7 separate regions of the Homo sapiens genome follow, and regions 1, 3, 4, 5, 6 and 7 are each reported to be linked to region 2. Evidence: microRNA targets listed by miRTarBase, many of them from high-throughput screens and not tested one by one. Region 2 holds a microRNA gene; each other region holds the end of a gene's coding sequence.

Region 1 (4,474 bases), not on the chromosome of region 2:
TTCGTGATTCAAAAAACATGAGGCGGCAACAGAAATACATTCACATACTTTACAAATGAGTTAAACAAGAGTATGTAGCTGCACTATTTATATTCGCCCAAATCGTAAGATGACCATCAAATGTAGGATGGATAAATGAATTATGGTACTCATGCAATGAACATTACCTGCCAGTGGCCAGGCGCTGTGGCTCACACCTGTAATCCTAGCACTTTGGGAGGCAGAGATGGGCGGATTGCCAGAGCTCAGGAGTTTGAGACCAGCCTGGGCAACGTGGTGAAACCCCGTTTCTACTAATAATACAAAAAATTAGCTGAGTGTGGTAGTGCACACCTGTAATCTCAGCTACTCGGGAGGCTGAGGCAGGAGAATCACTTGAACCCAGGAGGCGGAGGTTGCAGTGAGCTGAGATTGTGACATTGCACAATCTAACACCCACAGCCTGGGTGACAGAGCGAGACTCTGTCTCAAAAAAAAAAAAAAAAGAAAAGAAAATTACCTGCAAGTGAGAAGGAGCAAAATACATGTGCAACAATGTAATGTGATCTGTGTAATAATGTGATTTCCCTTAGGATGTGGCTGATGAAGAAATTGCTGCCCTCCCCCGGGATAGCTGTCCTGTTAGAATCAGAAATCGGTGTGTTATGACGTCCCGTCCGCGTGGTGTGAAGCGGCGCTGGAGGCTTAGTCGTATAGTCTTCCGTCACTTAGCTGACCATGGGCAACTTTCTGGGATCCAGCGAGCGACATGGTAAATGAGCTCCAGAACCTATTGAGCTTGCAGGGAAGCCAAGCTTGCAGTTCCAGCAAGCAAAGATTTTTTTTAATAGACCAAACCCTAATCTCTACAGGGGCCCAGTACAGTTGTTTGGCCTACCTGATGCTATCTCTAAACTACTTTTAAAATGAAGACATTTGGGTGTTTCATGTCAGTGAATTATCTTTTCTCTTGGACTTAACAAACATACTGTTCCCATACATAGTACAAAGAGTAGCATAATAAATATTTTCTGTGAATGTTTTTTATACCCTCCTTTTAAGTTTAATCTTTTAGTAACATATAGGGGTTTTTGTATTAAGAGCATTATTTCATAAAATGCTATCTTATACATAATCCAACTAATTGACATGTAGCTCATGTATGGCAGTTTGTAATCCTGGACTAGCTTTGCTGACCTGCAGAGCTCCCCTTAACTATTATTGTTAGATAAACAGATTGGATAGCAAGGCTGCTGTTCTGGATTATCTAATGCTCCACTTCTTCTTGTGATGGCTGAACAAAAGAACCACTAAGTGTTTTCTTGTCCATCCTTAAGGGACTTTAAAACAAATTATGCCTCTTTAAGTCCTTGAAAGTCTCCATCTAAAGAGGAAAAGTTTGTTGGAACAGTATATATTCCCTATTTTTATGTTTATTTAATCCATAACAGAAATGAGTAAGGGTAGCACAAAGTTCTCATTCAGTAACTCAACAGTGTGATCATCAGCCCAGTGATAAAAATATACATACTGAATGGAAGTACCTACTTAACATCAGGAAAATATTCCTGGAGAACTTAATAAATCAGGAGGTGAGGGGTGAGATTTTTTTCTGCACACAGAGGGAACAAAAGCACAAAGAAGCAAAGGCACTCTGTAGCATCAGAGAACCACAGTCACTTCAGTAGATCAGAAATATGAAGCACAAGACAAGGCCCGTATTGTGGAGGATCTCACAAATCATGTGAAGGAATTAAGACTGACATACCAGGTATTACAGAGTTTTAAGCACAGGAATGACATCATCAGTTTGTAATACAGGTAAGTGACAGCTGTGTGGCAGATGGCCATGAGAGGAAAAAGCTACAGGCAAGACAACCAGTTAGGAGGATGTCTTAGTTGTTGAGGAAGATGAAGGCCTGAACTAACATTGTGGTATTAGTAGAGGAGAGAGGACAGATTTTTAAAGTTTTAGGAAAGAAAATTGGGCAAGACTTACAAGACTGATTATATCTAAGAGGTAAAGATGGTTCTCTGGGTTCCTGATAAAAGTGTCTAGATAGATGGTAGAGGGCAATTCCAAGAGGGCAACTCCAAGATAGAAAATTTGGAAAAAGAACAAATTTAGGGGAAACAGAAGATAAGCGAGTTCAGGTTCCAGTCATGCGGTGTTGGAGATGCCTGTGTCATCTGATGAAGACTAGTACGCAGCTGGATAGCAGAGTCCGAAACTCAGGTGGAGGTGAAGTTATGAGGGAATTATCACAATCTAGTTTGGATTCATATTTCTTAAATATGTATGACAACTTACCAACTGGAATGTTCTAGCTAATATCTCAACTTAGAATCCATCTCACTACCAATGGGCAAACACTTGTGTTCTAAAGTTACTTGCAAGTAGTTTATACTGCCAACTTGATATATATACATGCTATAGTTTGAACATTTTGTGTACTTCCAAAATTCACATTAAAATCTAATCCACAATGCGTTGGTATTATTAAGAGGTGGGGCCCTTAGGGGTGATTAGGCCAGGAGGGCTCCACACTCATGGATGGGATCAGTGCCTTTCTAAGAGGGCTTGAGGGAGAGAGTTTGTCCCTTTTACCCTTCTGATACTGCGAGAAGGCACCGTACTGGAAGCAGAAAGCAAGCCCTTACCAAACACCAATCTGCTGGTGCCAAATCTTAGACTTCTCCAGCCTCCAGAAGTGCAAGAAGTAAATATTATTTATAAATTCTTAGTCTATGGCATTTTGTTACAGCAGCAGGAATAGACTAAGACAATGTGTTGATAGGTTTAGGGTCATGTTTTACTTTTTCAGTCATGTTAAATTTTAGATGGTTCTAAAGTCAAAACTCTAGAAAAAGTTAAATTCACAGAATAGCTTCCATCCTCATCTCCTTCCTTCCCCTGCTAACAATTTTTATTAGCTTTGGGTTTACTCGTTTCTTTTTGAAACATAAGCAAATACACCTATGTGCATACATTCACATTTCTCACCCTTTCTTACACAAATGTAGTGGGTATACCATAAATGTTCTGCACTTTGCTTTTCCACTTACTCTATCCTGGAGACCATTTTACGTTATATAGAACTCTTCATTGTTTTGTGACTTAAGTACTCCCTCATGTGGATGCACCATAATACATTCCTGTTAAATAGACACGAGTATTTTTAATCTTTTGCATATAGCATTCCAAATTTTTCTAAATGTACCTTTCAGAGCCCAGAAAGAAGTTAAAATTCTGGGTCAAAGGATAAATGAATATGTCATTCTGATGGTTATTACCAAATACTCTTTCTGAGACAAGAGTCTTACTCTGTCACCCAGGCTGGAGTGCAGTGGCACAATCTCAGCTCACTGCAACCTCTGCCTCCCGGGTTCCAGTGATTCTCGTCCCTCGGCTTCCCAGGTTCAAGTGATTCTTGTCCTTCAGTCTCCCGAGTAGCTGGAGTTACAGGCATCTGCCACCATGCCCAGCTAGTTTTTTTTATTTTCAGTAGAGACAGGGTTTCACCATGTTGGCCAGATGGTCTTGAACTCCTGACCTCAAGTGATCCGCCCACCTTGGCCTCCCAAGGTGTTGGGATTACAGGTGTGAGCCACTGCACCTGCCCAAATATTCTTGTTAACCAAAGTTTAACTTTTGCATTCCATTCCCATATATGTGTCCTTATTTCTCCACAGCCTCAACTCAATACAGTTGTTTTTATACTTCTTTTTCAAGTGAAAGGTAAAAACACTGGTTTATTCTCTTCTGAACAAGGTGAGCATCTTTACATGTTAAAGGTCATTTACATTTCTTTTTGTATGAAGTATTCTTAATTATTGGAATCCTGTCAATACATTGTTTGCCTTGGGTTATGGTGGGGTTTTTCTTGTCCTATAAACATTTTTATGTAGTTAAAATTGATCAATAGTTTTATTTATTTCTTCTAGGTTTTAAGTCACATATAATGTCGTTTTCCTCCATTTTCTTCTAGTATTTGTATGCTTTACTTTTTACAATTAGATCGTCAGGCGGCTTGGAATATATCTATATGCCTATTTTCAGTTATCTTAGTATCATTAAAAACCCATCTTTACCCCACTTTTACCATATTCTGTAACTTTCATATGCATTGTGTCTGCTATTCTGTTCATGTGTCAACCCCAATTACAGAGGCATAATGTGTTTCAGTATTTACTTATAGCTATCCTATACATAAACTGTTTCTGTATTTTAAATCCTACCACTTCTTCCAAATTCCCATATTAATTGTAGCTTTAGTTTAGTTTACCCTTCTGGATTTTTCCTGTGTGTCTAACGGCTTTTTTTTTTTTTTTTTTTTTAATGAGACAGGTTCTCAATCTGTTACCCAAGCTGCAGTACAGTGGCATCATCATAGCTCACTGCAGCCTTAAACTCCTGGGCTGAAGTGATCCTCCAGCCTTAGTAGCTGGGATTACGGGCGCCAGCCTTCATGCCTGGCTTCAATTGCTTTCTCTG
Region 2 (4,474 bases):
CACACACTTGCACACACACACACACACTTGCACACATATGCATGCACATGCCACCAGATCTCAGCCAGCACAGAAAGGCTCTCCCAGCCTTAGGTGGCTTATGCATTTTCTGAAACTAACTGTGGGAAAAGGGCTTGGGGAACCATCCCATGTGCCTGCACCAAATGCTGTGTGGGTGGGGCAGGACACAAGCCCTACACTGACACCTCCCAGAAATCAGGGAATCAGAGCTTGAGAGATTGTCCAGTAAAAGTTGGAACCCTCAACACCCCTTGACTCTGCCCAGGAGGAGCAACCTCAGAAGCCCCCCCAAACCTCCTCTCAGAGACCTGCCGAGTAGGAGGCTTCTCTCTCTACTCTCCTCCCCGCAAAAAAGAGGCCAGAAAAGAGGATGATTGGCTAACTCAGAGGTGCCCTGATGGAGGGGAGCAAACAAGGGGACTTCCAAGGAGAATTCCCTAGCCCACCTGAAAGACCCCTACCCAGAGTGGTGAGGGGCAGCTTAGGAGCACTGACGCAAGGGGGAGAGACCAGGCTGGCTTCCCTCTACGTAGTAAGTTCCTGGGGTGTGCGCCCCTGCCCCAGACAGCAGAGAAATCGCCTGACTGGGAGATGGAGAAGAGGGGCCACCTTCTCATGCCACCCCGCCGCCAATCCTCCAGGCACACTCGGGCGCTTGACCTGCTGAAGCCTGTAGCCTCAGGTCCAGTGAGGAGCTCACGGGACAGAGGGCCCTACCAGAGCCACGAAAACCGGAGGGGGGGACCTCCGCCCAAGGCAGGCGTCTCTGCGCGCCCGCTGGGGCCCTGGTCCTGCAGTTGGCTTCTCCCGACACGTTCCTTCGCTGCCGAAAGCGATTCGCCCGCGCTCTACCGAGCCCAGCCAGCTCCTACCTCGGCCCGGGCGGCGAGCGCTGTCTCCGTCCCGAGAAGAAGTTTCGCGGCTGGTCCCGGGGCGGCAGGCGCACGGGACGCTGGCGGCGGCGGCGGCTTCCGACTTGGGCTCAGACCCCGCCGCTCCAGACAAGTCCCCGCGACTGCGACAGTGTCTCGGGCAGTTCAGCTCCCCAGACGGGAGACAGACCCTCGCGACCTGGTTCAGGCCTTGCCCTGGGGGACACTGCAGTCCAAGGCGAAAGGAGACTTGCTCCCGGCCTCTGGGTCCCTAGGTCAAGGCACCTCCCCGCCCCGCCGCCCCTGAGCCCAAGTCGCCAACCCCGCGCCGCGCGCAGCGAGGGATCAGAAGGTCTCGGACGCCGCGGCAGGGCCGGCCAGGGCCCCACGAGTTAGGGAGTTGCCCCGCACCCCTAAACGCTCAGCACCCATTTACGGTTGAAAGTACGCACTTGACGCGTCCGGGCGCCTCCGCGGTGAGTCGCGCCGCCGCTCTCGGGGTCCGCGAAGGTGGCTCAGTTCGGGCGCTCCAGTCTCGACGTTCCCGGGGTAGAGAGCAACGTCCGGGGACGAACGGGACGGGTGCGCCCAGCGGCCGGGGCTGCGCTGGGCGAGGCAAGCGGCGAGAGGGGAGCGCTCCGGCGTTCAGGCAACAGCTACCCCTAGTGGGAGAGCCGCCCGGGGCCGGCGCCGCCCCGCGCCCGCTGCCCCGCGCCCCACGCCCGTGGCGCCCCGCGCCCGGGTCGGCTGGGGGCGCAGGGCCGGCGCCGCTTTCCCCAGCTCTCCGGTCTCCGGCGCCCGGCGGTAACCCGCCCGCGGGCTCTGCCCTCCGCACCTCTCAGCCCGGCCCCGGCGGCCGCTGACCCAGGAACCGCGGCGCCCCGCTGGAACGAGATGGGACGGGGCGGGCGCGGCCAGGGCGGCGCGGGCTGGGGCGGCGCGCGGCAGCCTCGGGCAGCGGCGGGGGGCGCGGAGCGCGGTGTGCGTGGCGGGGCGGTGCGGGGGGCGGCCGTGTGCGAGGCGCGAGTGTGAGCGCGCGCGGGAGGCGGGCGGGCGGGCTCCGGCAGGCGAGCGGCGCCCGCGGGCGAGCCAGGAAGGCGGCGGGAACGCAAAGTTGCCTCCTCGCTGGCCCGCGTCCTCGGTGGGGCGGGAGCCGGGGCCACCGAAGCGGCGGCCGCGGACCCGGCCTCCCGCGGCACCTGGGCAGCGGCCCCGCACGAGCGGCAGCGGCGTGGGCGGCGTTGGCGGCGGCGCGCGGGAAGCGAACCGGAGCTCCGGCGCGGCTCGGCGGCCGCCGGGGAGCTCGGCTCAGGTGCGCGGCGAGGGGGGCGCGGGCCGGAGCCAGGCGGCGGGGACCAGGGCGGCGCGCAGCGCTCGCGCCAGCTGGAGGACCTCCCCAGCGGACGCCCAGGTCCCTGGTCGGGCTCCCGGTCCCCAGCGGCAGCGGCTGCCGGAGTCCCCCGCCCCCGAGAGCTGGCTGCGGGGCCCGGGCCCGCCCCCACCGGCCCCAGGCCCGGCCGCTCCGCCCTCCGCCCGCCTGCGCCCGCCCTCAGCCCAAGATTTCTAGGGCATTGGCCGCGCTGCTGGGTGATCCCTCCGGGCTCAAGTTGCAAGGGGGCGGGCCGGGCCGGAGGTGGAGTCTCCCGCCAATTGAAGCCTCCGCTATAAATTGAACTCCCTGCACTGCTGAAGCCCAGATGCCTCGCCAGGCCACGTCGCGGTTGGTGGTCGGAGAGGGCGAGGGGTCCCAGGGGGCTTCGGGGCCTGCAGCCACCATGCTCCGCTCCCTGCTGCTTCACTCCTTGAGGCTCTGCGCCCAGACCGCCTCGTGCCTCGTGCTCTTCCCGCGCTTCCTCGGCACGGCCTTCATGCTCTGGCTTCTCGATTTCTTGTGTATCCGCAAGCATTTCCTGGGCCGCCGCCGCCGGGGGCAGCCCGAGCCCGAAGTGGAGCTCAACAGTGAAGGCGAGGAGGTGCCTCCCGATGACCCGCCCATCTGCGTGTCCGACGACAACCGCCTGTGCACCCTGGCGTCGCTCAAGGCGGTGTGGCATGGCCAGAAGTTGGATTTCTTCAAGCAGGCGCACGAGGGCGGTCCGGCGCCCAACTCCGAGGTGGTTCTGCCCGACGGCTTCCAGAGCCAGCACATCCTCGACTACGCGCAAGGGAACCGCCCGCTGGTTCTCAATTTCGGCAGCTGCACCTGACCACCGTTCATGGCGCGCATGAGCGCCTTCCAGCGCCTGGTCACTAAGTACCAGCGCGACGTCGACTTCCTCATCATCTACATCGAGGAAGCGCACCCCTCCGACGGCTGGGTCACCACGGACTCTCCCTACATCATCCCACAGCACCGGAGCCTGGAGGACCGGGTCAGCGCAGCGAGGGTACTGCAGCAAGGTGCACCCGGCTGCGCTCTGGTCCTCGACACCATGGCCAACTCCAGCAGCTCGGCCTATGGCGCCTACTTCGAGCGTCTCTATGTCATCCAGAGTGGCACTATTATGTACCAGGGCGGCCGTGGCCCCGACGGCTACCAGGTCTCTGAGCTGCGCACTTGGTTGGAACGCTATGATGAGCAACTGCACGGCGCTCGGCCCCGGAGGGTGTAAACATCCAACGGACAATTGACTGAACTTGGTGGGCTGGGCCTTCGAGCCTTCGAAGCCCACGTGCAAGCGCCTCAAACCAAGTCACGCTTGGCGAGGCCCCAGTGACACTGATGTGCTGAGCCACCATTTCAGACTGAGTCTGCACCCTCAGCCACATGAACAATCTCCCCTACCTCCCTGGGACTCTGCTTCTGTAACTGTCTCATTCACACCTGCCTGGCTCACTGGAAATCCTCTTTTGAGCGCGGGATATGGCTTGCCCTTGTCCGTGTGCCCCCAGGACTTTGCCTCTACAGCATTTTCTTACACCCCCTCCCCAGCGTGCCCTCAGCCAAGTGCTTTGGCCCGGTGCTTCCCGCAGCTGCACAGAGACCTTGGCCACGCCCGCGCGCCCTGAGCGCAGCTGGGTTCCAGGAGACTCTCAGCTCAGCTGAGCTAGTTGCCTGGCACCCACCTGTCGCGCGCGGAGAGGGGGTTCCCTGTTGCTTTTGTGTCTGTTTCCTGTCCCTGGTAGGGGAAGTGATGTCGTGGATGGGGAGGGGTGGGCAGGGTAGTTTCCCCCGCTTGTTTTGGGTGCACAGGAGCCCCACTGCTGATGACGAACTATCTCTAACTGGTCTTGACCACGAGCTAGTTCTGAATTGCAGGGGCCTCAAAGCAGCACCTAAACCTTGAGGGGGAGGGTGCTCTGGGTTTCCGTGAGGTAACCACCTTAAATGGGAGGGAAGTTGGGGTGTCTGCTTTGGGACCAGAGGAAGATAGCTTGAGAGGCATTGGCGAGGTTCGCAGCGCCCCAGGGAGAGAGAAAAAGCTGAGACTCCTGGGGAATGACGTTGGGGTGATGGAGTCCGGGGAAAGAGAGGTGGGGGGAGAGCCTGAGGTCCCCAAGTGAGGGGAGTCCTAGGCAGAGCTGCTGATTGTGGGGCTGGGAGGTGGAGGGCCCCTGATTCGAAGGCCATTTGGTGAGTG
Region 3 (4,474 bases), not on the chromosome of region 2:
TCCCCTGAGTGTAATAGTACCAGAGTTTGAGAGGCGTAACTGGGTTAAAATTCATTTTAATAGGAGCAACCAAAACTCCAGTGCAGGAGATAATGATGCTGATGGACAAGGCTCTGCTTCAGCGCCTTTAATGGCAGTGCCGGCAAGATATGGATTTAATTCACATCAGGGAACCAGTGACTCTTCTCTGTTTCTGGAAGAATCAAAGGTTCTGCATGCTCGTGAGCTTCCAAAGAAAAGAAATTTCCAGCTAACATTTTTAAATCATGATGTTGTCAAAATCTCTCCAAAATCAGTTAGAAATAAGCTTTTGGAAAGTCAAAGTAAAAAGAAAATTCATGGAAAGAGGGTGACAACTAGTAGTAATAAGCTAGGTTTTCCCAAAAAGGTTTATAAACCAATTATTCTCCAGCAAAAACCCAGAAAAGCTTCAGAGAAACAGTCAATTTGGATTCGGACCAAACCAAGTGATATCATTAGAAAGTATATTTCGAAATACTCTGTCTTTTTACGTCATAGATATCAGTCCAGGAGCGCTTTTCTTGGAAGGTATCTGAAGAAGAAAAAATCTGTTGTCAGTAGGCTAAAGAAGGCGAAGAGAACAGCTAAAGTGCTTTTGAACTCTTCAGTTCCACCAGCTGGTGCCGAAGAGCTGTCAAGCGCTATGGCAAATCCTCCTCCAAAGCGACCTGTGCGGGCTTCTTGCCGCGTTGCAAGAAGGAGGAAGAAGACTGATGAAAGCTACCATGGCCGACAGAAAGGTCCTTCTACACCTGTGAGAGCATATGATCTGAGAAGCTCATCTTGTTTACAACAACGTGAGAGAATGATGACTCGGCTAGCAAACAAACTGAGAGGTAATGAGGTAAAATAGAAGTTGGTTTTGTGTTCAGGCTAGTTGAGGATTCAGTACTTCAGTTGAAATATATTTGGTACTTTGTGCACACAGCTTTCCCAGCTTTGGTGAGAAAACTAATCTTGAACTATTTTGCTATAAATATTATTTTTCAGAATTTTTATATTCATTTAAAATTAGTGTTTAGAGTCCTTTCATTTTAAGATTCAGAAACAGCCTTTGTCCAACATTTTCTGTAGAAGAACTTCATCTTAATTTATGTCACAAAATAATTTAGCACCGTATATAGAATTTTGTTCCTCAAATCATATCCCTCTTATTTTTTATGATTATCTCTCTCATGCCAGCAAATTTAACATTGTGAGAATGAATATAGCAAACTTATTAAAAAGAAGGAATTATAATGAATTATGTCAACTTTTGAATGGGGTTGACTTAAATGAATACAAACAAAATATAAGTTTTCTTTCTTTTTAAAGCATTCCAGAAAATGAGATTCCATAATCTTTAATACAGTTTTTAAAAACTGGTGATTTTTTTTATGCATAGCACAAACTCCTCCTGCTTCATTTAAATTGGATCTGCAAGTCTCTAACTTTTATCATTTGGACACATGCACACATACAGTCTCTAGGTTTTTTGGGTTAGCCTTATTAGATCTTAAAGGGGAAAATAATTTTGCCCATGTGTTTAGGCATTCCCCCCCTTTTTTTTAACCACCTTTACTCTCTTCTACATGAAGAGTTGGTGGCTTAATATGAAAATCCAGGTTATTTTGTGGCCTTATCCCCTAAAAATATTTTAGGCATTACCATATCAGTTTTTATTTTTATGTTTATTTATTATTATTATTTTTTGAGACAGAGTCTCACTGTCTTGCCCAGGCTGGAGTGCAGTGGCCTGAACTTAGCTCACCGCAACCTCCACCTCCCGGGTTCAAGCAATTCTCCTGCCTAAGCCTCTCGAGTAGCTGGGACTACAGGCGTGCGCCACCATGCCCGGCTAATTTTTGTATTTTTAGTAGAGTTGGGGGTTTCACTATGTTGGCCAGGCTGGTCTCAAACTCCTGACCTTGTGGTCCACCCGCCTCAGCCTCCCAAAGTGCTGGGATTACAGTCATGAGCCACCATGCCCAGCCTACCATATCAGTTTTTAATAACTTGAACTGAAATTATTGGCTTGGTAATATTTGGGCAGGCCATTAATTCTCATTAGAAAATTACTTAATATTTCAAAAAATTGAATAAAACTGGTAATCTTTGTGGAGGCCCATTTTGCAAGTGGAAACCTGTATTTATACATTAGTTTGTCTTTAACTATTTGTTAACAGATTTTAACAGTTCAAATGAAAGATGTTAACGAGATGCAGTTTGAGTCTGGGATACTCAGAATAGATCCAGAACCTTTATTCAGGGACACTGGTTGAGTTGGTACAGATGCATTCAGTTGTCATTCATTCGTGTTAAGCCAAGATCCTGGATCTTCTATCATTAATGTTAAGAGGAAACATGAATTACAACTATATTGTATGACTGCCATATTTTATTGAAACTAAGGTCAATGTTGAACCATATCTTGATTTCAGAATTTAAAATGTGTTACCTTAGAAATAATGAAATATAGTGTAACAGTTGGTTTCTAAATGTGGTTTTATTTCAGGGGCCATTATTTAACCTGTGTGTATGCTATGATGGAGTTCTTTTGTGATTTCTTTACTTCTAAATTTAAATAGTAATTATGTTTAAAAACAAATGTTTTTGTCTTTAGTTGCAAAGCAGCATATATCTCATTTCCTTCAACCTTGCCTCCTCATACACAAATATATTTTCATTTCTTAAAAGATCACTGGGCCAGTAGTTCAAAATAATCCTCCAATTTTAATTTAGGAACAAAGCTTTGTCCTACTGACTAGGAAGTAAACAAACAGCTGATATATAAGATATTTGTGGGTATTGGTGTCTTTTTTCCCTATGGAATAGACACATAGTTCCCTTAAATATTATTAATAGACATTCTACAGTCTTTCAGTGTAAGTTTAAAAGCAAGAGATCAAATGAAAATGTGTACTATGTACCTATGATGTGTCATATCGTGATTACATCATGCAGAGAGAACAGTTCCTGTAATTCAAGTAATTAAAATTTCAAGTTGTAAAAATGTTACCATTTTCACATTGGAAGCCCTTCTAAGTACCATTTTCATTGGGGGCAGGGAGAAGGTTTATATTTAAATTTTATATTACCAGACATAAAAGTACAGTGCAGTACTGATGATTTTGTTTAAAGTTTTTGAAATGTTTTGTTTACTAAGTTCTTGTAATCATTATTTTAGACAAGCTTGAAAACTTGAAATTGTTGAAACTTATAATTTAAATTAAATTGGAAATTACTTTCAGAATTTGGTAGTATACAAGATGTGCCCCTTTGTCTAAATAAATGTTGGCTTAATTTGCAGAATAGATAAAACAATTGATGTTTTTGTGTGTTCAAGAATGCATTAAATTCTTTTAATAGTAAAAAGTCAAATTACGACCATAATGAGTATTTTAATCTTGTTCTTGTTCAGTATTTTGCGTAGATTTTTATTGTAATTGTCCTGAGTTCTACAGTATGTGAACAATATCGTGTGAAGTGTGTTTTTGCATTTGTGCATTTAAATTATTTATGTAACTAGGGCTGTGAGTAACACTTTTTTTTTTTTTTTTTGGTTAAAGAAAAGCTATATTTAAATATTCAAATAATTATATATTTCCATGTAAAACTAATGTGAAGACTAATGTATTTTTTATATTGCAGTGTAAAAGCTAAACTTGTTTTTGATGTTATCAAGATAAAATTTATTAAACCTTGAAATTTGTCTGTTCTCTCTTCATGTTAGAAACTTTTTCTGGGAATACTTGAAGAATAAGAGAATAATGGCCTGAGAGATAATAAATGAGAGAATGTAAATGTTGATGCCAGTGAGAAAGTAGTTTAACCAAAGATATACAGATTATATTCGATGCAGTAGTTATTTCAAAGGATTAAAATTAAACCATTTATTTGTCTGGTGGAGTGGTGGATTAGCAGCTTTTCACTTTGTGTACCTGTATTGAAAGGGCCCGTGAACAAGACTGAGTTCATGAGGCTGTATCTATATCACTGTTTGACACCTACTGGGGAGGGAGAACTTGGGAGCCTCCACTACCACAGCAAGTATTATAAAATACAAGAAAACATGAGAAAGTGTATGTGTGTCAGTGAGGTAGGTGCCTTTGGCACCAGTAGTACTGACTTCCAGAGTTTGTTGGCCTAGATGTTATTGCCAGGATAAACAACATCCTAATCTTTTTTTTTTTTTCCTTTCTTGAGGCAGAGCCTCTCTTTGTCGCCCAGGCTGGAGTGCAGTGGTGCAATCTCAGCTCACTGCAACCTCCGCCTTCCAGGTTCAAGTGATTCTCCTGTCTCAGCCTCCTGAGTAGCTGGGATTACAGGCATGCGCCACCACACCCAGCTAATTTTTGTATTTTTAGTAGAGACGGGGTTTTACCATGTTGGCCAGGCTGGTCTCGAACTCCTGACCTCAGGTGATCCACCCACCTTGGCCTCCCAAAGTGCTGGGATTACAGGCATGAGCCAT
Region 4 (4,474 bases), not on the chromosome of region 2:
CCCAGCACTTTGGGAGGCCGAGAGAGGTTTGAGGCTGGTTTGAGACAAGCCTAGGCAATATACCAAGACCTCATCTCTTTTTTAAAATAAATTCTAAATAATATGAAAGGAATGTAAAATTTACCATTCTATCATAACATTCATTGGGCAGCTTGTCCCAAATCTTTCCTGCACTGGAATTCATTAACCCACTCCTTAAATTTGGCAGAAATGGTCAAGTGACCCTCTTGGCACCCTTTCCCCTCAACCTTCACTCTAAACGCATGACCCTGGATGCCAAGAGCGTGTAACAGTCTCCTCAGGCAAAAGGAAATTAAAGTTTACTAACAAAAGCATGGTCAGACAGGTAAGGTACTATTTGTGGAAGGAGAACGTCTTTCAGGTGTTTCTGACCTACCTAAAAATAACTAACCTACGTTGCAGCCTCTCTGATAAAGGCAGGGCCAGGGCCAGGGCCAGGGCCAGAGCTGTTTTTAGGTTGCCCTCAGCTTCACCAAGTCCTCTTAGCACAGCTTAGAATGAAGCTAACCAGAGGAGACCTGCTCTCTCTCTTTGGGATTATACAAAGCTGGCTTTTTTGAAAATATCTAAATCTTCCAGCCAATCACCAGTCATTTATTTTGCAGCAATAAAGTTATAATTCAACATTAAAAAATAAATAAAATCCCCCATACCTAACCTTTTTGGTGGAAATAAAAAGCCCAAATTGTCAACATAGTCATATCTCCCAAATGTGCAAATTCTATTAATTATAAAATTTCCAAATTATATATCAATATAAAATAATGAGATGGAATATCTTTAAAGAAGCTCATCTGACTAACTTATATTTGAATTTAACAAGGTAACAAGATCTATAAAAATAACTATCAGCACTCCCCAATGCTCAGTCTGTAGGTATTGGCATCCTTTGAACTATTTATCAATAGACTACAAAATAATCTCTACTTTCACATTATTTAGAATTTTCAGACCTGGGTGTATAAAATTCACAGTACATTTTTCAAGATTTAAAATATGAGAAGATACATAAACATTAATAATGTACTCACTATAATGCTATGTGTCCCAATAGGCCCCGATCTCATTTGCTCCTCTCAACAACTCTGTGAATTAGGTATGATTCTCATTTCACCAATGATGAGACTATCAAGTAACTTGTAAGTGAAAGTCTGCCTGACTCAAAAATATATTTTAAAAAAATTACTTTATATAGTAGCTTAATGTAAGGAGTAATAAGTGAAAATTGGCTATTGGGCATGTTAGCAAACATAGTGTTTAAACATAAAAACAGTTAACCTATGTTGCAGCCTCTCTGATGAATACTCGGCCTTGTAACTTGGCTTCTTTAAATGGTTTAAACCTTTTTTTCATGAGTGTTTATTGCTTCTATTAGACTGTGATTTCACTGCAGGCAGAAAAGGGACTAAATTTTCTACCCTTTCGAACACTAATAGACTGCTGAACACTATTTTGTAAATGTGGGTACTTAACAGACCTTTTTTTAGTAAATCTGAAAACCAAAATGACTCTTAATAAGGTTCAGAGTATAAAAAATAGTTCTCACTTAAAATAACATACACCAAAAGAATATAAAAATATTGATTTATTACCAACAAAGCAGGATTTCCCAGTTTTTTCAATTACACACACACAAGCACACACAATAGCAGAATGAAATTACATTTTTCACATCTAAAGGTTTATACCTCAAAGAAAATAGGCATGTGTCCAAAAGACAATTAGAAAGCAAGAAATCTTTCCTTTTACTTTGAATATGGAAAATCTTTTAACAGAGACTCTTTCCAGGCAAACCAATGAAGATTTAGGCATAGAAAATGCTTGTCACCTTAAGGTTTTTAAATATAACTGTATTCACCAAATCAAGTTTTTACTAGAAGTTTTTACGATTTTTATGTAATTAAAAATCAACTTTTGGCCGGGTGCAGGGGCTCACGCCTATAATCCCAGCACTTTGGGAGGCCGAGGCGGGTGGATCACAAGGTCAGGAGTTCGAGACCAGCCTGGCCAATATGCTGAAACCCCATCTCTACTAAAAGTATAAAAAATTAGCTGGGTGTGGTGGGACGCGCCTGTTGTCCCAGTTACTTGGGAGGCTGAGGCAGGAGAATCGCTTGAACCCGGGAGGCGGAGGTTGCAGTAAGCCGAGATCACGCCACTGCACTCCAGCCTGGGCAACAGAGTGAGACTCCATCTCAAAAAAACAAACAAACAAACAAACAAAAAAACTTTTGTTTTAAGTGGCTGAGACTATGTGCTAGACTTACTACTGTTTAATATGCTAAAATGATACATAATTTATTCTTCACAGCTCAAAATTCAATGTAAAGCCAAATATTAATTTTGTCCAGTAGAGAAATTAAATGTTTACAAACAAAGTATGGAACAGTTGTTGGCCTATGTAAATTGAAATGTAATTGACCATTTTATTTTCAAACATGCTTAATCTTCACGTGTCTTTTTCACATTGATACTCATTTTGCAGAAATAAGATGACTGGTACTAATTTAGACAATAAACAAACTACACCAAGCACATTTTAGTAAAGATATTTTGGTGGAACGCAAAGTAATTAACGATGAAAACATTTGGTAATATCCATTTACTAATATGTTACCAAGTTCTTCAATGTTTACATGACTTGCTCATATTAGTAAAAATGTCATTTTAAAATATTTTCACACTTCATGCACTGGAGTTAGTTTAAGAAGGGAAGGCTCTTTTAAAATGTTTATAAAGAAGAAAATACCTTTTTAAAGAGAAAATGTCTAAGTGAGAGGACATAAACTTATGGCTCATTATTTTTTGACCTAGTTAAGAATATAAATTTCAATGGCTACTTAAGAATATACAAAACCCAAACTGAAAGCAATTCTTCAATTTATTCAGGCAAGCAAGTCAAAAAAATAATTTTGTCATTACTGGCACAGATCCAATCCACTGTTCAAAGACATGACTTTGGACTGTCTATTTTCCTATAAGATTTATTTTTTAAAAGAAGATAATTTGTTTGGTTCTACTAATTAGTATAACTTAGAGATAAACAAATGATTTTCCCATTTAATTCTTTTGCGGTGAAAGAAAACAGTTTAAACTAGATTTTCTAAGATAATGGGTACATCAACATTGTAAGAAAGGCCCTATAGGCTTAAGTTCTAAAAACATTACGGTTTTAAAGAAATCAATGCTTTTCCATCACTCTTTACATAACACTGAGAAATTTCAAATATAAATTGTAGAAACCAGTATATGAAATTTTAAGAAAAATCTTACTAAAAATAATTATAAAATGCTTTTAGAAATGTAAGATGTAAAATATAATTGACTTTAAATAAAATAAAAAAAAGCAACCCCTGCCCCCACACTTTAAAAGGTTATTCTTTAAAAACCCTTGTCACCTAATTTTATTCTCAGTCAATCTTTTGGTTGTATTTTGCATCATCTAGTGGCCACCTTGCAGCATTTCAAAGCAGTTCTGCTACCATTTTTGAACCCCAGTGCTTTTTTCCCCTTGAAATACCAATAAAATTATAGCATCAAGTTTCATAAAACTTTCTTTTAAAGGCCCATAAAATTCCATTTCCTACTGGAGATAAGGTAATCTTTTTTAATAGGAAGAAATGACTAGATCTGTCATAAATTATTACTATACATTAGACATTTTCATATCAATTTTTTAAAATTAAATATAACATTGGGAGAAACTAGGACTTAGGCTCTAGAGTCATCTTTAGGCTCTAAAAGTAATTAAAGTTACTCTGCAATTAAAGCTCAGGGCTACCATATAAGTAACTTCTTGTGATTAACCCTTCTTCCACTGTACCTTTGATTTGTAATATTAAGTACATTTTAACATGAGAACTGAATGACTCATGGTCAGAGTGCCAAGAACTCAAGTTCAACCAAGACTGAAGAAGACTTAACTTTTACTACCAGCTGCTATTTTGGAAAGGTCATTATAGTTTCCATTATCAACCTATTTGTATTTAAAAGCAGGTTTCCAAAAATAACTGCTTTTCGTTTTAGTGAATCTCCTTTTATTCAGTTGAGCCATACTTATAAACAGAATTTAACAAAAAAAATTCCCAAGTTCCCTCTCTTTACTTTTATTAAGAAGGTTGAGTGAATGTAATACGGCGCCGCCGCCTTTGGAAAGCCTTTAAATTCCATGTGTTTGGTTCCAGCATATGAGGGCCATTGTAGACAAACAAAACTGTCATCTTTTCAGAATAAGGAAGATTTTGCAGGAGCTGTAAGTATTAAAACAAATTGTCATATAAGCTATATACTGAGAAGTATAGTTTTCCAACCTTACATGTGTACAGTCAAATGTATTATTTTATTTGCAATATTAATAAAACTTTTTTTTTCCCACTCTGCTGCTCAGGCCGGAGTACAGAGGTGCGATCTCAGCTCAGTGCAACCTCCACCACCCAGATTCAAGAGATTCTCG
Region 5 (4,474 bases), not on the chromosome of region 2:
TTATACTAAGTCATTTACAAAAATTTCTAAGTGGTGGCGTTCTAGTGTTGTTATTAATTTTTAGAATTTTTTTGTTTCCATCTCCACTTTTATATTTCCCTTTTGATCAGAGACCATTAGTTACATTATTTTTACTCTTCAGCATTAAAGTTTCATTTTAGCCTTGTGTTTAGTCATTTTTTTGTGAGTGTTTCATGTCAACTTGAAAGCAAATCACAGGATCTCACTGCAGGACGTAGTGCTCTATAGAAGACAATGAGATCTATCTTATTAATTATGTTATTGGATATTATGTAGCCTCTTAAATTTCTTGTCCACTTATCCCTCGCTGAATCCCAAAATGCTATGAACATGCATACTTGATGAATGAATGTGTGATGTAGAGCTCCTGTGGTCAGCTAGAATTGTGTTTTGTTTTGTTTTTTCTTTTATAGCCAAAGATTGCTGAGGAAAACTTAACCTATGCCGAACTGGAGCTGATCAAACCCCACCGGGCTGCCAAAGGCGCCCCCACCAGCACTGTCTACGCCCAGATCCTCTTCGAGGAGAACAAGCTGTAGTACAGCGTCCACCTCCAAGGTTCTATTTAATACCTGCCACCCAGTGATTTATGAAGCCTTGGAGACAAAGCCCTTATGTCTGTATTTTCACTCATGCCTTCTGAGTGGTGGGGAGCCCCTTTTCAGCAGCATTCTGGGTGCCTTTGAAGAGGTACAAGCCTGCTCTCCCCAAAAGAATCGGGGCCACAGCTCTTGACAGATCTCCCGGGACAAGATGCGCCTGGGTTTGAGCCCTGAGCGTAAGGATTCTGATCCTGAGAGCAGCCAAGGAGATTTTCTGCTGAGCCAAACCCCTTCACATTTTTCTCCTCTTTCCCCAGGTTTTCTTTAAAATCGTTTTTAAATCTTAATTTTACTCTCTACTCTTCCTGTATCCACGATACAAGCTCACAGTATATAGCTAGAGGAAATGCCATTATGGACCCAACTGTAAGATGGCACATATGTTGGTTTTCCAAGGATCAGATGGCATTGCCAGGGCCACAGCCAACTGCTGATTGCCAGCACCACCTGAGATGGCATCTCTTGTTTTAAATAGATGCACTAACCCTGAAGATTAAGGCCAGAGGGGCAGACTGACTAGAGAAGTATAAGGTCTGTCTCTGAATGCCATGGTGCCCACCTATGAGACCCTGAGGCCGCAGGACAAGAAGAACACCATTCTAGAGGGCTTCCAGCCCTTTCACAAGGTGGACCTGTACTGATAGAGAAACACACTCTCTAAGAAGTGCTTACTCACCCTTTTCCAAAGGAGCACAGGTGTTGGCCATCAGAAGACACACTGGAGCGCATGGGCCTCTTCACTGTGTGCCAAGCTCAGTCACCTCTGATTCAGCCCCTGAAGGTGTCTGCTGCCAGGTGCCCTCAGGGTAGGAGAGTGGGAAGTACACGCCAAGCTGGAAAGTGTGTTCTGAAGACCCTCCTCTTGCCAAGTGCCTTGCCCATTGCAACCTTGTGTGTGAATTCTAATGGGTTTGAATGGGGGTCAGGGTGCATGGGGAAGTTGCTCTGTGGACCTTTGGGACACAGGAATCTTGGACTTACTGGCAGGGGATCCATTCTGAAAGCACCATCCTGTCAACTGTGTTATTGAGGACATTTCTTGATGTGAGTATAGTCTGGGTGGCTATTTACTGCCCACTATAGAAATTGTTTGACTATGTAGTGGACCATGTATATATGATAAATTATCTATTTTAAACACAGCTGGGGTATGAGTTGTGCCCTCTATATAGCTGTGTGAACTTGGCTAAATTTCTTATCCCCTAATGACCTCAGACTCCATGTTTGTGTAAAGACGACTTAACTTCCCATAGAATTCTTGAGGGTAAAATGGGATAATGAATCTTGCCAGTTCTAGAAACTGTAAATTGCTACACAAATGCTCTGTGTTGACATTCATGCTAAAGCCAGTCTGCATTTTCAAAATGAAAATTTCTTCACTATTTAAGGCTTTCATTGCAATAACTTTAAAAACCAAATATTTGTCCACCAACTTAGCCCTACAGTAATGTTCCCAAAGACTCATGAGAGTTTATGGTTTATTGGAAAGGGTCCAAATTGGAAGCAGATATTGATTTTCTGGGAGCAAACTGGTCTGCCTTTACAAAGTGGAAGTTCACCCTCTCTGGATAACACCTGTGTCTCATTCCTCCCTCTCTGCCAGATCTCGAAGGCACTGAATAAACCATGCAGCTTTTGAGGAAGAAAGAACCATTTGGAAGAACTCACTAGAACTTCTTTGAGCATCTCTTTGGGAGGGGAGGATATATGGTTAGCACACCATTTATATAATAATTATCACAGGGATTTTTAATTTTATCATGGCAGTGTTCTGACAGATGTATAGTGTTTTGAGGGCAGAGGATGATCTCCTAATTTGCCCAAAGAGCCTTATGGGTTTGTGGGGCTCTGGGGGTGCCAAATGGGAAGGAGAGGGGGCACATGAAAAGGAAATGGCGGGAAGAGGGCAACAGGCCAGGGGGTAATATCTTCCCAGGCCCCTTAGGCCTCTACAGAACGGAAATGAACTTCATTCACCCCCAAACCCACCCACTTAAATCCAAAGAGAGCTTAGGGTTATTATGCATGGACAGGAACACATTCTACCAAGAACACATGCTCTTAAGAGCTAGTAGCTCCCAGTTAGAGTCAAACCAGTCATTGTTATATTATAGATTGAATCCAGCCTCTTTCTCCCAAACTGTGGTCATCACTGCATGAATCCACACTAAGGTGTGTGAATGGGAACCTGCAGATTATCTCCTCCTACTGAAAATGCTGCCCAGGGGAATCTTGGAAGCTATGGACAGCATCCAGGCAGAGCTGGTCCCACTGTTATCTCCAGAAGCAAATGCCCAAGCTGTGCTCAGAACTGGAAGCAATGGATGACTTGTATCAGGTGCTTGTTTGAGAGGATATATTGACATTATTGCCATAGTAAGCTTAAAAAAATGTGCCCACTCATTCATTCTTTGTCCATGGACCACTAATCATGCATTGTCATTTCCAAAGATAAGGGGAAACATATCACATATCATTGAAATAGAAATTAGGGAAAGTTTGTCAATTTGTTTTCACTATAAGGCATCAATGGCAGAAACTACATATGAGTAATTTTCAAAATAGACCATTGCTTAAATGTTTAAATGAAGCTAAAAGAAGTATGAACCCATTGGTTAGAGTGCAGTGGCTTCTTTCAGGCAGACAGCAGATGCTCTCAGATTTGGTGGTGAGTTTTGGCCTTGGCATGGTTGGCATGGAGTCAGCACAGGAAGCCGGGAGGTATGAAGGGGCATCCACCTGGGTGAAACTGTCTTGCCAAGCCAAAGCCCCGAGGCCTGCCCTGAAGCAGCTGTAGTGGAGGAGAGGCCTGGGATTCCTTAGAGTCACCTTTTTACGAATGTACCGCCACTCTGTTAGCTCACAGGGAAAATAAGGAAAAGCCAGGCCTCCCACCTCTTGACTCTTGTGAGAGTGAAGACAACATGGGGCATTTAGAAAATATATTTTTAGTGTATGATAATGTGGGCTGGCCCACACAGCAATGAGCCCAAAGACCCCCTCGCTTTGGGAATTATTCATGGCCCTGCTCATCACAGCCTCTGATATGCATGACTGTAACCTAGGCTGAGCCAAGAATGGAGCTCATGCCAGAAATGGTCCTAAGCATGCACATGGCCCCCTGGAATATCAAAATCCTGGGGAGAAAGAAATCATCTTTGCCTTGGGCAGTGAAGCTGGAATGGCACATATCTATCTGTTGCCACATCTCCTGCCTAGTGGAGAAGCCTTGGAAGGCAACAGACACTGAGCAAGCAGCAGGGAGGAGAATGTCCTGGAAGGGCAGGACTCTACCCAAGTCCCTAACATCCCCAGACTCTTCTCTTCCATAAACTCTCTAATTACTCTGCTGTTTAAATCCTGGTTTTGGTCAAGCCAGTCAGGTTGCATAAAGAATATGAATACAGTATGCATCAAAGTTGCTTCCCAGAACAGGAAGCAAAACAAACAAACAAACAAACAAACAAAATACTGATATCAGTACCCAGGGTGCCCAATTAGGTCACACCCAGTGGCTGCATTGCAGCCCCTGAGCTCCTGCTGCACCGTGTGTCCTGCTGCCCGAGTGGGCCCCACCCTGGGTTCTGAAGATGCCCTTCTTAATGGAGAGCTCCCGATGGAGGGCTCCAGGACTGATGCTCTCCCTAAGGAAGGGAGGCCTCAGATTTGGAGAGGGACACCAACAGGACCAGAGGAGGACTGAGGGGCACTGGCACCAATAAGTGGAAGGGAACAGCGTGGTAACAAAAAAGAGCCATGCCACTTGCATGCTGGAGGGAGTCTTTTTGTGTCAGCCTAAAGCTTAGGCTGGTGTCCATGTGGAACATGACATCTTTCCAGTATCCCTGATC
Region 6 (4,474 bases), not on the chromosome of region 2:
CCCAGGGTCAGCCCCATGGCCCCCCGCCTGTCAATCCCCAGGGTCAGCCCCATGGCCCCCGCCTGTCAATCCCCAGGGTCAGCCCCATGGCCCCCCGCCTGTTAATCCCCACAGGCGGTTTTTCAAGTCCCCCCATTTTGATGGCTGGTACCGGCAGCGGCACAAGGAGATGGCCCTGAAGCTGGAGGCCCTGCACCTGGAGGCTATCTGTGAGGCGGTGAGAGAGGCTGGGGGTTGGGGAGGGCCAGAACATGGTGGGGGTGGGCACAGGCCCAGGGCAGTGAGGGGCCTTGCTGACAGTAGACCCCGTCTTGCCCTGCAGAACATCGAGACCTGGATGAAAGACAAGTCCGAGGTGGAGGTCGTGGACCTGGTCCTGAAACTTCGTGAGAAGCTGGTAAGATGCCTCCCAGCCTTGTCCCAGCGCCACCAGCCTGGCACGGAGCTGCGCCTGCCCTGACCATGGCTGCCCCTCCAGGTGCGGGCTCAGGGCCACCAGCTCCCTGTGAAGGAGGCTACGCTGCAGCGGGCACAGCTGTACATCGAGACGGTCATCGGCTCCCTGCCCAAAGACCTGCAGGCTGTCTTGTGCCCTCCCTAGAACAAAGCCAAGGGCCACGGTCCCAGGGCCCTAGGTCTGCCTGAGCCTCCCACTCCCCAGTGGTGGCGGCACTGGGCCAAGCACACGCTCCCCTTCCTTGGCCCCCCGCCCAGACTGCAGGCTCCCCTTCCTGCACCACCATTGTCTCAGCAGTAAAGGCGACATTTGGAACCACAGCATGGCCTTGACCATAGGGGTTCCTCGCAGGCAGAGCCTTGCCTCCTCCTGGGTCCCACCTGGCCTCTGCAGACCTTAGGCTGGGACGGGGGCGGGGACAGGCTGGGAGCCCTTGCTGATGTGGGTGCGTCTACCGTCTGCCCCTCCCGGTGCCCATCTGTTGGCCCCCGACCCCCCTGCGCTGTGTGTGATGCTTCCCTCAGCCCAACAGGCTGCCCAGGACAGGAGGGACCCTCTCCTGACACAGCCCCCGTCTTGTCTGGGGATGGGAGGCTATTTTGCATATAGTCATCAACTTGAGAAAGGGAGAGACCACTTTGCAGTGTGAAGAGCTCTGCTCACCACCCCTGGTGCTCCTCTGGACACCCACCTGCTTGGGGCTGTGGTTTGTTGGGAGGTAGGGGTTGGGCAGGGGGCTGTGTGCAGCCCAGCACCTCTGCTAGGAGAGCTGGCTCAGCCTGGCTCTCGGAGAGCCACAGCACCTTCCTGGCTCCCAGTCCTGGAGCCCCCACCAGGCACCAGCTCCGTGCGTCCCTTCTGGGAGGTGGACAGGGCTCCTGTTGTCCAAGTGTGTCCGTCCATCCCCCACATGCAGCCCAAGGGGCTCTGGACTTCGGCCTGACCCTGCCTCTGGCTGGAGCCTGCATGTCTCCCTTTCCTTGGTAAGGGGTGAACGTCCCTAAGAGCCACCTCTGGGTTGTATGCTCCCCCCGTGACACCTGCAGGCACTGAGGCCGGTGAGGTACGGTGTTGACCCTGCACAGCACACAGTGACGGTACTGTCAGGGCTCCGGACAGCCAAGCCCTGCTCAGCATCACGCACTGTGTGCCCGGGAGCAGGTCCCCTGACCACTCAGACCCTCAGACTCCTCATCTGAGCGAGCCAGCCATGCAGATGCCCGACAGGGTGCTGGGAGGGCCACTCATGGAGACTGGGCTTTGTACCCTGTGAGGCCGGGCGGGTGCTGGCCAGGGGACACAGGGCTGGGGGAGGGACTTTTTCTTTTTTTTTCTTTTTGAAATGGAGTCTCGCTCTGTTGCCCAGGCTGGAGTGCAGTGGCATGATCTCGGCTCACTGCAAGCTCTGCCTCCCGGGTTCACGCCATTCTCCTGCCTCAGCCTCCCGAGTAGCTGGGACTACAGGCACCCACCACTGCGCTTGGTTAATTTTTTGTATTTGTAGTAGAGACAGGGTTTCACCATGTTAGCCAGGATGGTCTCGATCTCCTGACCTCGTAATCCGCCCGCCTCGGCCTCCCAACGTGCTAGGATTACAGGCATGAGCCACCGCGCCCGGCCGGGACTTTTCTTTTTCTTCTGAGGCCCCCATTCAGTCCGAGGAATGTAGCCTTCATTCAGCGCAACGTACTGTTTGTGTTCTCATTGGTGCTCTCAGACCTCCAGCCAGGTGGTGGAGAGCGAGCACTGCCAGCCACTTCAGTGCAGGATGTGACTGAGCCACAAGGACAGCGGGGTCAGGTGTCCGGGCGCCAGGTAGTTCTCAGAACTTGGTACATGTCAACTTGTCCAGCCCAACTGCAGCCCAGGACAGCCTGTCCCTGTTCCCATTCTACAGACAAGACGCGGAGGCAGCCGGGAGGGTGACCAAGGGGAGCTGTTAAGCCCCAGATGTCTGGTGCAGGGTCCAAGGATGTGACCACATGAAACAGAACACATAGAGGCCGAGGTGGCAAACCTGTTCTGTGGCAGGGACAAGCCGGGGACCCGAGGGTGAGAAAGGTCCTGGCCCCAAATGCAGCTTGGGCCTCCTGACTGTAGCACAGGGGGACCAGCCTCCCCACTGAGGGCTTGGTCTCTAGAGGGTCTGCAGAGATGCTGGCACCTCTTGTGTGGGCAGCTTGAATGCTGACCTCCATAAGATGGGGCCTGGGGGGCCAGTACAGGCCCTGCCATCAGCTGCCCTCCACCAGGGCCCTCTGCAAAAGCCTTATGCTGGTGACCAGCCCCCTGAGGACCACCACTTCAAGGTGTCGGGGCAGCTTGGGAAGACAACCCACCTCTCTCACAACTGTGACCCCACTTTGGGGAGCGCACCCCAAGGACCGTGGCAGCATGTGCTTCCCCACAGCACAGTCTCGCCTCACTTGGCTTTCTGAGGGCTGCCGCACAGCACAGAGGGCTGCAGACCCACATGGCTGCAGGGGAGGGGCTTCAGGCTGGTCTCTGAGGAGCCCCCAGGGACCCTGGCCACTGTGTATCCAGAAATGCACAAGCAGATTTCCCTGGAGGGCTCTGGTGAGGCCACATAGTGGCGTGTGAAGGGGGAACTTGAGGGGGGAACCGGGCTGGGTGGCCAGCATTGCCCTGGGCAGAAGCTAAGGCTAAGGTGGGGGGTAGTGTCCCAGCCCCTCTTCCTCAGGGCCTGTCCCCACCTGTGCAGAAGAGGCCTGGGGTGGAATGTGGCCTGGGGTGGATGGGTGGGGGCTGGGCGTGGAGACCTGCCAGCTCCATCTGTCCGGATGCCTCTTGTGGCCCCCCCAGTGTCAGGGCCGCTCTGAGTTGGCTGAGCCTCTGTCCAGGGCTAGGCCATGGCCCTCCCCGCCCCACGCACTCCAGGCCAGGGGCAGTCAGTGAAGAGGCAGGAAGGTCCAGACAGCTCTACCCCTGGCCAGAGTGCCAGCCCCCGCAGGCAAGAGGGCTTGCTGGGCAGAACTTAGTTGGCGAGGGTGAGGACTGCTGTGGTCACAGGCCTCCCGAAGGACAGGGACCACAGAACCTAGAGGGTGGGAAGGGCTGGGAGCAGGTCTGGAGTGGGGCTCGGGGCTGAGGGTGCACACAGGGGGCCTGCTCAGGGACAGGAAGGACAGCTGCTCACCCTCAAGCTTCCTGCTGGCTATTTAAAGACTCCCTTTTAGTCTAGAACAGTGGCCTTCCCACAGTTTTGGTATTAAAATGTCCTTTTGTGACTGGACCTTGTCTTTTCCTTTTTTGATAAAAAGTTGGCAACCTTGTCAGAACCTGGTAATTTTGGGGTCCTCTGCAGTGAAGGGTAGGGTTGCCGTGATGTGGATTGTGGTTCAAGGCCCAAGGGAAGATTTTGGACAGGAACAAGGCCTGGCTGCTTGAGGGTGGGAGAAGGCAGAGACTGAAAGAACTAAGTCAGGCTGGGGGAGTTTGTCAGGATGTGGCGGGGCGGATCCCGGGTGGGGGAAGCAGAGGAGGAGGGGATGCCTGGCTGGGGACAGGAGGAAGCTGACCAGCTGCAAGGACGGGGCAGGTCTGGGTGGAAGGCGGGCCCCAGGGAGGGGTGACCCAGGGTGGGGGCAAGAGCTTGGGGAATGCTTCTGTCTCCTGCTCAGCACATCCAGTTCCGGGAGGGCAGTGGAGGCGTGCTCCAAGGTCTGGCCCTGCAGACGGTTCACCACCTCTTCTCAAGCCCAGGGGACACTAGGAGCACTGAGGCCAGGACTTGGGACCTGGGATGCCAGAAGTGGGGCCAGCTCTGTCCCAGAAACCAGAACCCCCAGAAAGAGGTCTCGGCCCGCCCACCTCCTGGCCCTGAAGGACCAGGTGGGGTCCCGGGTGCAGCATCCCAAGGTGCTGCTGGAGGCCAGGGATGTGCTGGGAGGCCATCTCCAGGTCCCAGTTTACCCTGGGAGGTTGAGGGCCTGAGACCCCTGGGAAAGGGCCAAAGCCCAGCAGCCCCCACCCCTGAAGGCCGCAGGGGAGCGACTG
Region 7 (4,474 bases), not on the chromosome of region 2:
TCTCTGTTTTTTCTTTAGGCTAAACATTCCACATTTCCTTAACTGTTTCTCATATAGTATGCCCTCTAAGCAATAGAATTAAGAGGACTAGGGTAGCCATGCTTTGGCAGGACTTTTCTTCTATGGTATTGTTGCCAGCAACAACAGGTTCCTGAACTGGTAAGAGGCTTCTCTCCTCTTTCCATTAGAAGGGATAGAATTCTTGTTACTTCTCAGATTAGTCCCTTCTAGGGACAAGACCTACTAATCTGACCAGGAAGGAAATGAACATGTAGGTGACTGGGGCTGGGAAAGCATGGGACAGGGACTGGTCACTTCGCACATATTTTCCATGCTGTGATTTTGGGAGAAAACTGATGTGGTTAGGAAGGAGAAAGTATGGACACCAGAGTGAGCACAATTTGTTAGTCATGAGAATGGCCTTTTTCCATTGCAGGTTACCCTACCTGTAAAGAAAAAATTAAGAGAAGGCCTGGCGGCCGGTCTGAAGTCATCTATAATTATGTACAACGCCCCTTCATCCAGATGTCATGGGAAAAGGAAGAAGGGAAGAGTCGCCATGTGGATTTCCAGTGTGTTCGAAGCAAATCCCTCACGAATCTGGTAGCTGCTGGAGATGATGTCTTGGAGGACCAGGAGATATTAATGCATCACCCACCCCAAGTGGATGAACTTGACCGGCTAAATGCCCCACTTTCTCAGATGGCTTCTAACGACTTTCAGGATTAGGGCCAGCTGTGGGTCTACTCCTTGTTGGAGCCCATCTCACCTGGGATGCCTGCAGCCAGCCCTCCCTCGTGATTTGTCTCACCTTGAGTAGGAGACATGCTTCTCCCCTAACCTTTTCCTTTCTGCCATAATTAACATATGTCCTTTTCAGTAAGTCCATGCCTCTGGCAGGGGATGAAGAAGTACTCACTGGTAATTAGCTACCATCTTTGCAGCAGCCCTGGTAACTTGAAAAATTTGGGTCTGGTGCTGTTCATTGAGTCTTTGTGTAACTGCAAAAGCAGGAAAGGAAGTCAAGACTCCTGTTGCCTCGTGCTTAGCAAAGCAGTCCTTATCCTTTATACTCTGTTCTTGGGTTTTGTTTTTGTCTTGTTTTATACCAGGCAAATTGCTTAGTAGCAAAGGGACCAAACTGAAAAGGTGACAATCTCTAACTTCTAAAAGCAGACACCAATCGGATGCTCATTAGAGGTTAATGAAGATGCCATTCTTGGTGGCCTCTGCACCCAAATTGCATCTGGAAAGAACTAGGGTCTCATTCAGAATGTCCAAAAGGAAATTCTTAAGAGCTTAAATTCAGATTTGTGTCTCATTAATGCAGTGAACAATTCAAAACCACACAGATTCCTTGGCAGGAAGGATAATGGAATAACAGTGTTGATGAGACCTTTTTAGCTTCAAGGTTTCGGAGTCTAAACAAATGGATGATTCATTTGGAATGAAACTCACAATGCAAGTAGAAGGACCTCTCCAAATCAGGCCAGTTGGGTTATCCTGGCTTGGAATCTGGTGTGAAACCATAGGTCTTAACACTCTGGAGCAGCACATTGCTGTGGATATGTCCAGGAGACCTTAGATATGGCTTAAAGGCTTTCAAGATGAGGACAGAAATTGCTTACAATTGCTCAGTTTCTCAACAGAAAGACTCATAAGAGTGCCAGCATGGGGTACATGGAGTGAAGCTGGGTGGGAAGCATCATCTGCACAGTCCCTGTCCTAGTGCAGGACTTTTCTCTGTATGTTTTCATACCATGGGATTTTTGGATATCAGTGTATTTTGGTTCTTGAAATAGCCTAATAGCTGCTCACACATTGGGTAGGAATATTATACCAATGTCATCCCCAAAGGAAGGGTGAGCTGAATGGAAATTAAGCCCAGTCATTTTATTTGATCTATTAGCTCTGTTATCAGTGCATGATCACCCAGATCACCCTCCTCAGCCCACACAGTGCTGAACCATCTTCCCTCCTGTTCTCCATGGCTATTAATAGTATAGCTAAATTTAGAGTGCAGAGCCAGATATAAGTATTTTGGAATTATCTCCCAGTTTGTGGTAGAAGCTGACTGGAATACAGGTTGAGTATCTCTTATCCAAAATGCTAGGGACCAGAAAGGTTTCAGATTTTTTCAGATTTTGGAATACTTAACAGTTGAGCACCCCAAATCTGAAAGGCTTCTGAACGTCATGTCAGCACTCAAAAAAGTGGATTTTGGAGCACTTCAAATTTCGGATTTTTGGATTTGGGATGCTCATCCTGTGTAGGAGAGGCTACTCGATTCCATTTAATGACTGTCCTAGTCATAATCATCCAAAGATAAAAGCCAGGTAGATGTTGAAAGCTCTTTCCAGGGCTGAAAAAGTGTTCTTACGTTCTCTGCATGTGACTAGCATCACTGTGGAAATTAATGCTCTGTTCTTCACTAGAATGTAGTAAGTGGTTAAACTGAGCTATCCCCCACCTGATGACTATTGGCATCCATTTGCAAGGCCAATGGCCTGGATTAAGGGTTAGGATTATTTGTAGCTAGAAGGTAATTTTATTTCTGTGAAACTAATTGGCTCATATTTGAGGTTAGGTGTGGCCTTGACCTTACCAGTACATTTATACCCACTACCAGTTGACTAGCCCAGATAATTGTTAAATGGTGCTTCTTTTCTGCTTCTCAGTAGACTTCCATGCCATTACAAAGGAAATTTGAATTACCTAGTGTTTGTATATTCCATGATAACTATGTATAACTTCTGTTACACAGCTTATGTATTGTTAACATTTAAGTGTAAACCATGCCACAGCTAACACTTAAAAATGAAAACTAATTAGTTCTTGCTTAGGGAAAATGCCAGGTATGAAGTATGGCATATACTTGACACTGTCCTGTGTAACCCTTTACTTTGCTCAGGCTTTCAAGATTGAGTCTTTTTTCCCCCAAATTAGGTTAACATGCATTTGACCCCAACCTGTGGGGTTTGAGTAAGCTGGAAATCTGTGACGGTAGGCTTTCTAGTGTCACGAGGTGGTGGTGACTGAAGGAAAAGCTGGGATCACAGGTTCCTTCTGATGGAGAGGAAGGTTTATTTCTATGCCCCTCCCACCACCCTCCACCTAGAGCTCACCCAAGCCTGCTCCAGTCCCAGGGGCAGGCCATTCTGCAAAAGCAGGACCTCACAGAAACAAGGGCTGGGTTGAGGTCACCCCCTTCAGAGTTGGTTCCTGGCCAGATGGGTAAGAGGCATTTGTAATTTTAAAAATGTGAAACTTGGGTTTGGTGTTTTCTTCTAAGTGCCTAAATAAGCAAGCCAGGCTGTTGATATTTTAGCCAGAGAAATCGGCAAGCCAAGATTAACCCGAATCTGAAGTTTAGAATCTTGAGTTTGCATCTGCATCATATCATGCTGTTTTGATGAGGAAACATTTGCCACTGAGGAGTTGGAGGGAGGGCAAGACGACAGTGTTAAGTCAGATCATTTAATGGTTTCCCCTAAGCCCTGGAAAAATATTTGAAAGAATGGCAGCAAAAAGGTTAAGAAAGCAAGCCAGATTTACTGCACAATATGCAGTACCCAGTACTACTTTAAATCCCAAGAGAACAGTGTGATGTCTAATATATACAGGTCTATGAAAATACTGTGGAATAAGCCCAGGAAGGTTAGATGTGTTTGCAAATAAGTTGCCCAAAGGGTCCCCCTCTAAGTAAAACAAATATTCAGACCACAGGCTTTAATGTAAACTGTCAAAAAGTGGGATGTGGAGGATTTTTGTTAAGTGTCAATCGAAGTTAAAAAGCAAGGGTTTTTGGCCAGGCGTGGTGGCTCACGCCTGTAATCCCAGCACTTTGGGAGGCCGAGGCCGGCAAATCACCTAAGGTCAGGAGTTCGAGACCAGCCTGGCCAACATGGTGAAACCCCGTCTCTACTAAAAATACAAAAAAATTAGCCCGGTGTGGTGGCAAGTGCCTGTAGTCCCAGCTACTTGGGAGGCTGAGGCAGGAGAACTGCTTGAACCCGGGAGGTAGAGGTTGCAGTGAGCCACGATCATGCCACTGCACTCCAGCCTGGGCAACAGAGCAAGACTCCATCTCAAAAAAGAAAAAAAAAAATTAAAGGTTTTGGCTGGGTGCAGTGGCTCATGCCGGTAATCCCAGCACTTTGGGAGGCCAAGGTGGGAGGATCACTTGAGGTCAGGAGTTTCAGACTGGCCTGGGCAACGTAAAAAATTAAAAAAATAGCCAGGCATGGACATGGTAGTGCATACCTGTGGTCCCAGCCACTCAAGAGGCTGAGACAGGATGATTGCTTGAGCCCAGGAGGATGAGGCTGCAGTGAGCCATGATGACGCTACTGCACTCCAGCCTGGATGACAGGGCAAGACCCTGTCTCAATATTTTAAGTCAAGGGTTTGTAGTAATGTATTCAGTGCCACTTCTTGCCATCACTTTGCAATTATTGAAATGGGAATACTGAGC

What was found. Region 2 holds the annotated microRNA hsa-miR-1247-3p (CCCCGGGAACGUCGAGACUGGAGC, at 1,420-1,443, opposite strand). A microRNA usually pairs through its seed, bases 2 to 8, with sites in the 3' UTR of a target mRNA and lowers its output. Matches are read on the target gene's strand: a 7mer-m8 pairs with bases 2 to 8, a 7mer-A1 pairs with bases 2 to 7 and ends in A, and an 8mer does both.
Region 1: miRTarBase lists MRPS14 as a target of hsa-miR-1247-3p. The part of its 3' UTR that is shown has no 7-base or 8-base seed match.
Region 3: miRTarBase lists ZDBF2 as a target of hsa-miR-1247-3p. Seed matches in the 3' UTR shown: 7mer-m8 at 1,785-1,791.
Region 4: the mRNA of SMC5 is a reported target of hsa-miR-1247-3p. Seed matches in the 3' UTR shown: 7mer-m8 at 2,141-2,147.
Region 5: miRTarBase lists VSTM4 as a target of hsa-miR-1247-3p. Seed matches in the 3' UTR shown: 8mer at 763-770.
Region 6: the mRNA of DENND6B is a reported target of hsa-miR-1247-3p. Seed matches in the 3' UTR shown: 7mer-A1 at 1,608-1,614 and 7mer-m8 at 1,868-1,874.
Region 7: the mRNA of KCTD20 is a reported target of hsa-miR-1247-3p. Seed matches in the 3' UTR shown: 7mer-A1 at 4,013-4,019.

The regions. Positions count from the first base shown.
Region 1 is chr1:175,010,950-175,015,423 of GRCh38, reverse strand. MRPS14 (mitochondrial ribosomal protein S14) reads left to right here. Exons shown (of 3, transcript NM_022100.3): 3 at 573-2,466. The coding sequence ends at 755. It overlaps CACYBP (calcyclin binding protein), which reads right to left. Exons shown (of 6, transcript NM_014412.3): 6 at 3,397-4,474. Among named protein-coding and RNA genes, the nearest start is that of MRPS14, 10 kb to the left of the region's middle. RefSeq lists a silencer at 2,565-2,765.
Region 2 is chr14:101,558,907-101,563,380 of GRCh38, forward strand. It overlaps MIR1247 (microRNA 1247), which reads right to left and starts at 1,516; the gene lies at 1,381-1,516. It overlaps DIO3 (iodothyronine deiodinase 3), which reads left to right and starts at 2,589. Exons shown (of 1, transcript NM_001362.4): 1 at 2,589-4,474. The coding sequence starts at 2,591. The coding sequence ends at 3,505. DIO3OS (DIO3 opposite strand upstream RNA) reads right to left here and starts at 1,516. Exons shown (of 2, transcript NR_152588.1): 1 at 1,346-1,516.
Region 3 is chr2:206,310,720-206,315,193 of GRCh38, forward strand. It overlaps ZDBF2 (zinc finger DBF-type containing 2), which reads left to right. Exons shown (of 5, transcript NM_020923.3): 5 at 1-3,708. The coding sequence ends at 874. Among named protein-coding and RNA genes, the nearest start is that of ZDBF2, 38 kb to the left of the region's middle.
Region 4 is chr9:70,351,988-70,356,461 of GRCh38, reverse strand. It overlaps SMC5 (structural maintenance of chromosomes 5), which reads right to left. Exons shown (of 25, transcript NM_015110.4): 25 at 1,589-4,271. The coding sequence ends at 4,131. Among named protein-coding and RNA genes, the nearest start is that of KLF9-DT, 60 kb to the left of the region's middle.
Region 5 is chr10:49,015,736-49,020,209 of GRCh38, reverse strand. VSTM4 (V-set and transmembrane domain containing 4) reads left to right here. Exons shown (of 8, transcript NM_001031746.5): 8 at 435-4,474. The coding sequence ends at 560. Among named protein-coding and RNA genes, the nearest start is that of MIR4294, 32 kb to the right of the region's middle.
Region 6 is chr22:50,308,266-50,312,739 of GRCh38, reverse strand. It overlaps DENND6B (DENN domain containing 6B), which reads left to right. Exons shown (of 20, transcript NM_001001794.4): 18 at 115-217; 19 at 323-397; 20 at 479-3,710. The coding sequence ends at 601. Among named protein-coding and RNA genes, the nearest start is that of PLXNB2, 2.9 kb to the right of the region's middle. RefSeq lists a silencer at 4,023-4,072.
Region 7 is chr6:36,486,447-36,490,920 of GRCh38, forward strand. KCTD20 (potassium channel tetramerization domain containing 20) reads left to right here. Exons shown (of 8, transcript NM_173562.5): 8 at 437-4,474. The coding sequence ends at 729. Among named protein-coding and RNA genes, the nearest start is that of KCTD20, 46 kb to the left of the region's middle.